Homo sapiens: one gene and its partner. The protein of the gene in region 1 purifies or fractionates together with the protein of each later gene. This does not show direct contact. Each region holds a gene or a part of one and is shown in the gene's direction. Other genes may lie near its edges.

Region 1 (3,500 bases):
AAGCTACCCACAAGTGCCCAAGTCCTCTCTACTGTGCCTTCTGGGTGCTGGGTCAGGATAAACAGTTTCTGCCTCAGCTCTCCTGGGGCTGATCCCTAAGTGACAGCAACTGCTCCTTCTTTAGTGACCACTCATTTCTTTCTTTTTTTTTTTCTTTAGAGACAGGGTCTCTCTCCGTCACCCAGGCTGGAATGCAGCAGTGTGATCATAGCTCACTATAGCCTCAAACTCCTGGGCTTAAGCAATCCTCCCACCTTAGCCTCCTGAGTAGCTGGGACCACAGGCACATGCCACCACACCCAGCTAATTATTTTATTTTATTTTTTATTTTTGTAGAGACAGGGTCTCACTATGTGGCCAAGGCTGTTCTTGAACTCCTGGGCTCAGCCCCACAAAGTGCTGGGATTATAGACGTGACCCATCATACCCAGCCCACTCATTTTTTTTACTCCGGTTAAAAAGCACTTCTAGCTTGAGAAAAAACTGGCTTCCATGCAGTTGTCCTGGGTTCTGGCTTCTGGGATCATTCTCAACCACTGAGTCTCAGCAGATGGCATGCTGGGCCCTTGTATCTAGGGAGGGCTTGCGTCATGTACACATGACATGTGCTGGGGGAGGACATAAATTTCAGGATCCTTAATGAAGAAAGAGTGGAGGGGGTGCAGCTTTACAACTCTACGCCCTTCACACATTCTGAGATTCCACTCACCTCCCGACCCCAGGATCACAGCATCTGTGCCACTATTGCTGGTGACAGTGTCACATCTTTCAGCAATACCGGGACTAAACTAATACCTAAGCCTTTCTTCCCTGAGGCTAGTCTTCAGAGACTCAAAGACAACTATTATGCCCTGTCTCTACCTCTCCTATTTTCTAGACCAAAAAGCCCAGGCCTTTAGCCATTCCCCTGGGGTCCTGGCTCCAGGGCCCTTCACTGGTGGATCTCCTCAGGCATCACTCAGGTTACTCACTGTCCCTCTCAGAGTCTGGCACTGGAAATGAGACACAGAACTCCAGTGTGATCTATAGAACGAGGAAAGCAAAACTATCACCTCTTTTTGTTTTTATTCTGCTTTGTTTTTTAAGAACGCAGGACTTCTAAATCTAATCAGTAGGACCTCATCATTTTATGTGGGTTGTTTTGTATGTCACTGGTTTTGTGAGAGACCTGCACCATACATCAAAGTTATCAGACTGAGGCTGAATGAAATCCACCAGTCCACCTTAAAGACAGCTATCCTGGGAATGTGGGCAACGTCCCACTTGCCCACTGCTATAGCTTATAGCACCTTACACTCACCTCTTCCTACAGATTATTTTTGAGTAACAGCGTGACCATGTTGTGCATTTAGCCAAGCAAACCTTTCTAGCTTAGGTGAATGAGAGGGAGCGGCCAACGTATAAAACAAAATAGTAAGTTCATAAAAATTACAGTGCACAATAGTCTCAGATAAAATATTAATTGTTAAACAGAATTCCCTGTATGTGACATGTTCTCTTTCCTAATAATTTTCAGTTATTTCAAACTTTTTACTCAAGTTTTTTCAAGCCTCCAATTAAAGGTGCTGAGCTGCACCAGTCTCTGTGACCCCCAGCTCCAACCTTCTTCACTACAATTTTGGGGGTACTAGCACATGCCAGGTACAGTACTCAATTATAAATATATGATTTGTGTATATCGTGTGTGTGTAAAACACTTCATTTTCCCCATGGAAAAATTTATCCCTCACCACCACCCTATAAAGTAGAGTTTGTTACCTCCACTTTATAGATGAAACAACAAGGTTCCAAGAAGATGTTGCATAATATTCTACAGATGAAATAATTAGGAAATCAGGCCGGGTGAGGTGGCTCACGCCTGTAATCCCAGCACTTTGGGAGGCCAAGGTGGGCGGATCACTAGGTCAGGAGTTCAAGACCATCCTGGCTAACACAGTGAAACCCCATCTCTACTAAAAATACAAAAAATTAGCCAGGCGTGATGGCAGGCAGCTGTAGTCCCAGCTACTCGGGAGGCTGAGGCAGGAGAATCTCATGTACGTGGGAGGCAGAGGTTGCGGTGAGCTGAGATCTTGCCACTGCACTCCAGCCTGGGCAACAGAGTGAGACTCCATCTAAAAAAAAAAAAAATAGGAAATCAGATGATTTGACCCAATGTGTCTGTCTCTAAAGGCTGAATATAATATTGCTTTCCCCACATATATCATAGTGCTGCTGTCACAGGTTGAGTTAGCTGGCTCTGATTTTAAATAGCTACCATTTAAATAGCTACCATTTGCTGAACATATTGTTACCACCCAGCCACAGTGATATTGTTTGGAAAAAAACATTTACAAGTTCAAGGCCATGTTCAAGTTGTTCTTTTTGGCTTCAGATCTAATATACCACAGCACATCCCCTCATCCCTGTGCACTTGGAGGGCAGGAGGGTGTCTTAGTCAGTGTTGCTTCCTTCCAAGTCCCGAGCACAGTGCTGTGATGTAGTCAGGACTCAATCTTGATAAACATTGGTGTAATTAACAGGTTTCAGGTCCACCAAAGAAGTATATGCTATGCTGATCATTGCAGAAGAATCCCAAACATAATGCACCCCATTTTCCAGACACAAGTGATTGGGAGAAATAACGAACTTATGTTGCGACTCATGGGGAGAGGTTACAAATTGATGCCAAAATCTAGTCTCACACCTGCTTTTTTGCTCCCCCCAGTAAGTGAAAATGGTGATCACCTAAGCACATGGATGAGACGTGAGCACAGTTATGGCAGAGAAGTTTCTCCGCACCAGAATTATCCACAGCAACTTGGCTGAGCCCCACTACACACAGAGAAATCATCAACCTGACTTAAGAGTTTTCAAGATGTCAACTTCAGGCTGATCAGCAGATGGGATGTGAAAAATACTACCCTATTCTATCATTTGCTGTTGCTTGCTGAACTGTGAAGAACTGCATGAACTATATTTAAGCTGCTTTCTGTACCATTGCCAATCACCTTTTTGGAGTTGGAAGTGCTATTTTCCTATGGACTTTTGCATTATTTCATTGTGCATGCATCCAGTGATTATACATAAGCAACATATGTAATCTGCTTATATATTTTTAAAAATCCATCCACACACATGGTAAATTAAGTATAAATTCTTTTGCAAAATTATAGTTCATGTCATTGAAAGTTTAAATTGGTTTCATTTAAAGATCAATATACTAGGTCTGCCTTCACTTTATAGAAAACTAGCTTCTATAAAGATTTTTTCACTGTTTACTAGTGAAATGAGAAAAGCAAAGCTATTTATAAAAGGCCTTATGTCGTGTACATACATTGTCTTTGAAATATTTGTGATCTAGTTTATTGCTTGTAAAAGAGAAATTATATAATTTATTTAGTAAATACTACTGTAAACTATAGTTTTGTGAGAGAAATAAAATATTTTGTTCTCAATTGTGGTGGTACATCGATTCCAGTGATTTATGGTCTTTCCATTTCTTCTTTTATTAAAAATAA
Region 2 (3,644 bases), on another chromosome or scaffold:
CGAGACATTTTCCTCCTGTTTGCTTGAGTTCGGTTGGGGGGAGGAGATAGGGTAAAGGATCTGCTGGCACTATAAATTGTCACACAGTGTAATTACCAATCTAATGAGAATTTTATTTTTCTCTGAACAGTGGTGGAACGTTGTCACTGGGGAATCCTCACAGACCTTCTACACAAATGGAACCAATCTTAAGAAAATACACGTGTCCCCTGACTTCAAAACATATGTGACTGTGGATAATCTTGGTATTTTATATATTTTACAGACTTTAGAATAAAATAGTTAAGCATTAATGTAGTTGAACTTTTTAAATTTTTGAATTGGAAAAAAATTCTAATGAAACCCTGATATCAACTTTTTATAAAGCTCTTAATTGTTGTGCAGTATTGCATTCATTACAAAAGTGTTTGTGGTTGGATGAATAATATTAATGTAGCTTTTTCCCAAATGAACATACCTTTAATCTTGTTTTTCATGATCATCATTAACAGTTTGTCCTTAGGATGCAAATGAAAATGTGAATACATACCTTGTTGTACTGTTGGTAAAATTCTGTCTTGATGCATTCAAAATGGTTGACATAATTAATGAGAAGAATTTGGAAGAAATTGGTATTTTAATACTGTCTGTATTTATTACTGTTATGCAGGCTGTGCCTCAGGGTAGCAGTGGCCTGCTTTTTGAACCACACTTACCCCAAGGGGGTTTTGTTCTCCTAAATACAATCTTAGAGGTTTTTTGCACTCTTTAAATTTGCTTTAAAAATATTGTGTCTGTGTGCATAGTCTGCAGCATTTCCTTTAATTGACTCAATAAGTGAGTCTTGGATTTAGCAGGCCCCCCCACCTTTTTTTTTTGTTTTTGGAGACAGAGTCTTGCTTTGTTGCCAGGCTGGAGTGCAGTGGCGCGATCTCGGCTCACCACAATCGCTGCCTCCTGGGTTCAAGCAATTCTCCTGCCTCAGCCTCCCGAGTAGCTGGGACTACAGGTGTGCGCACATGCCAGGCTAATTTTTGTATTTTTAGTAGAGACGGGGTTTCACCATGTTGGCCGGGATGGTCTCGATCTCTTGACCTCATGATCTACCCGCCTTGGCCTCCCAAAGTGCTGAGATTACAGGCGTGAGCCACCGTGCCTGGCCAGGCCCCTTCTCTTTTAATGGAGACAGGGTCTTGCACTATCACCCAGGCTGGAGTGCAGTGGCATAATCATACCTCATTGCAGCCTCAGACTCCTGGGTTCAAGCAATCCTCCTGCCTCAGCCTCCCAAGTAGCTGAGACTACAGGCACGAGCCACCACACCCAGCTAATTTTTAAGTTTTCTTGTAGAGACAGGGTCTCACTATGTTGTCTAGGCTGGTCTTGAACTCTTGGCCTCAAGTAATCCTCCTGCCTCAGCCTCCCAAAGTGTTGGGATTGCAGATATGAGCCACTGGCCTGGCCTTCAGCAGTTCTTTTTGTGAAGTAAAACTTGTATGTTGGAAAGAGTAGATTTTATTGGTCTACCCTTTTCTCACTGTAGCTGCTGGCAGCCCTGTGCCATATCTGGACTCTAGTTGTCAGTATCTGAGTTGGACACTATTCCTGCTCCCTCTTGTTTCTTACATATCAGACTTCTTACTTGAATGAAACCTGATCTTTCCTAATCCTCACTTTTTTCTTTTTTAAAAAGCAGTTTCTCCACTGCTAAATGTTAGTCATTGAGGTGGGGCCAATTTTAATCATAAGCCTTAATAAGATTTTTCTAAGAAATGTGAAATAGAACAATTTTCATCTAATTCCATTTACTTTTAGATGAATGGCATTGTGAATGCCATTCTTTTAATGAATTTCAAGAGAATTCTCTGGTTTTCTGTGTAATTCCAGATGAGTCACTGTAACTCTAGAAGATTAACCTTCCAGCCAACCTATTTTCCTTTCCCTTGTCTCTCTCATCCTCTTTTCCTTCCTTCTTTCCTTTCTCTTCTTTTATCTCCAAGGTTAATCAGGAAAAATAGCTTTTGACAGGGGAAAAAACTCAATAACTAGCTATTTTTGACCTCCTGATCAGGAACTTTAGTTGAAGCGTAAATCTAAAGAAACATTTTCTCTGAAATATATTATTAAGGGCAATGGAGATAAATTAATAGTAGATGTGGTTCCCAGAAAATATAATCAAAATTCAAAGATTTTTTTTGTTTCTGTAACTGGAACTAAATCAAATGATTACTAGTGTTAATAGTAGATAACTTGTTTTTATTGTTGGTGCATATTAGTATAACTGTGGGGTAGGTCGGGGAGAGGGTAAGGGAATAGATCACTCAGATGTATTTTAGATAAGCTATTTAGCCTTTGATGGAATCATAAATACAGTGAATACAATCCTTTGCATTGTTAAGGAGGTTTTTTGTTTTTAAATGGTGGGTCAAGGAGCTAGTTTACAGGCTTACTGTGATTTAAGCAAATGTGAAAAGTGAAACCTTAATTTTATCAAAAGAAATTTCTGTAAATGGTATGTCTCCTTAGAATACCCAAATCATAATTTTATTTGTACACACTGTTAGGGGCTCATCTCATGTAGGCAGAGTATAAAGTATTACCTTTTGGAATTAAAAGCCACTGACTGTTATAAAGTATAACAACACACATCAGGTTTTAAAAAGCCTTGAATGGCCCTTGTCTTAAAAAGAAATTAGGAGCCAGGTGCGGTGGCACGTGCCTGTAATCCCAGCTCCTTGGGAGGCTAAGACAGGAGGATTCCTTGAGCCCTGGAGTTTGAGTCCAGCCTGGGTGACATAGCAAGACCCTGTCTTAAAAGAAAAATGGGAAGAAAGACAAGGTAACATGAAGAAAGAAGAGATACCTAGTATGATGGAGCTGCAAATTTCATGGCAGTTCATGCAGTCGGTCAAGAGGAGGATTTTGTTTTGTAGTTTGCAGATGAGCATTTCTAAAGCATTTTCCCTTGCTGTATTTTTTTGTATTATAAATTACATTGGACTTCATATATATAATTTTTTTTTACATTATATGTCTCTTGTATGTTTTGAAACTCTTGTATTTATGATATAGCTTATATGATTTTTTTGCCTTGGTATACATTTTAAAATATGAATTTAAAAAATTTTTGTAAAAATAAAATTCACAAAATTGTTTTGAAAAACATTTTTGGATTGTTTCATTCTTTGCTTGTCATTTATCTGTTGATTAGACCACTAAAGTGAAGGATTCAAGCTAAATACATCAACCTTTCTATTTAGGCTTTATCAGCTATATGTAAATTCAATTCTATCAAAATTTTCTGAGTGCCTCCTCAGTGTGTCTCTCTGATGGTTCCTGCCCGGTATGGCTGGCATGAAGAAGATCCTGTAAAAAAGAGAATTCATTTATTTATTCACTTAGTTTGTTCATGCATTTGTTTAATAAATATTGAGATGTACCATGTGCCTGGCATTGTGGTAGGTATTGGGAACACAGGAGTGAGCAAAACAAAAGTCTTGCTCTACTGCAGTTAAGGGCCAGGGAGAGGCAGAAAAAGTAAATAAGTAAAATCTATAGTGAATTTGGTGGTATGTACAAGCGGAGGGGAAGGGGTTACGGTTTTAGATGGACTGGCTCTTTCAGAAGCTGACACTTGTACAGACCTGAAAGATGTGAGGAAGTGA

The links. Proteins that work in one complex are often made in the same cells at the same time.
Region 2: the proteins of PIP5K1B (region 1) and APAF1 purify together in Homo sapiens (affinity purification with mass spectrometry; one large-scale study listed by BioGRID and IntAct). This does not show direct contact.

What each region holds. Positions count from the first base shown.
Region 1 is NC_000009.12:69,005,740-69,009,239, forward strand, and holds the end of PIP5K1B (phosphatidylinositol 4-phosphate 5-kinase type-1 beta), read left to right. Parts: intron 1-2,707; coding exon 2,708-2,710; coding exon of another isoform or gene 2,711-2,714; 3' UTR 2,715-3,437; downstream 3,438-3,500. UniProt on the Homo sapiens protein: Catalyzes the phosphorylation of phosphatidylinositol 4-phosphate (PtdIns(4)P/PI4P) to form phosphatidylinositol 4,5-bisphosphate (PtdIns(4,5)P2/PIP2), a lipid second messenger that regulates several cellular processes such as signal transduction, vesicle trafficking, actin cytoskeleton dynamics, cell adhesion, and cell motility.
Region 2 is NC_000012.12:98,732,290-98,735,933, forward strand, and holds the end of APAF1 (apoptotic protease-activating factor 1), read left to right. Parts: intron 1-130; coding exon 131-277; 3' UTR 278-3,144; downstream 3,145-3,644. UniProt on the Homo sapiens protein: Oligomeric Apaf-1 mediates the cytochrome c-dependent autocatalytic activation of pro-caspase-9 (Apaf-3), leading to the activation of caspase-3 and apoptosis. This activation requires ATP. Isoform 6 is less effective in inducing apoptosis.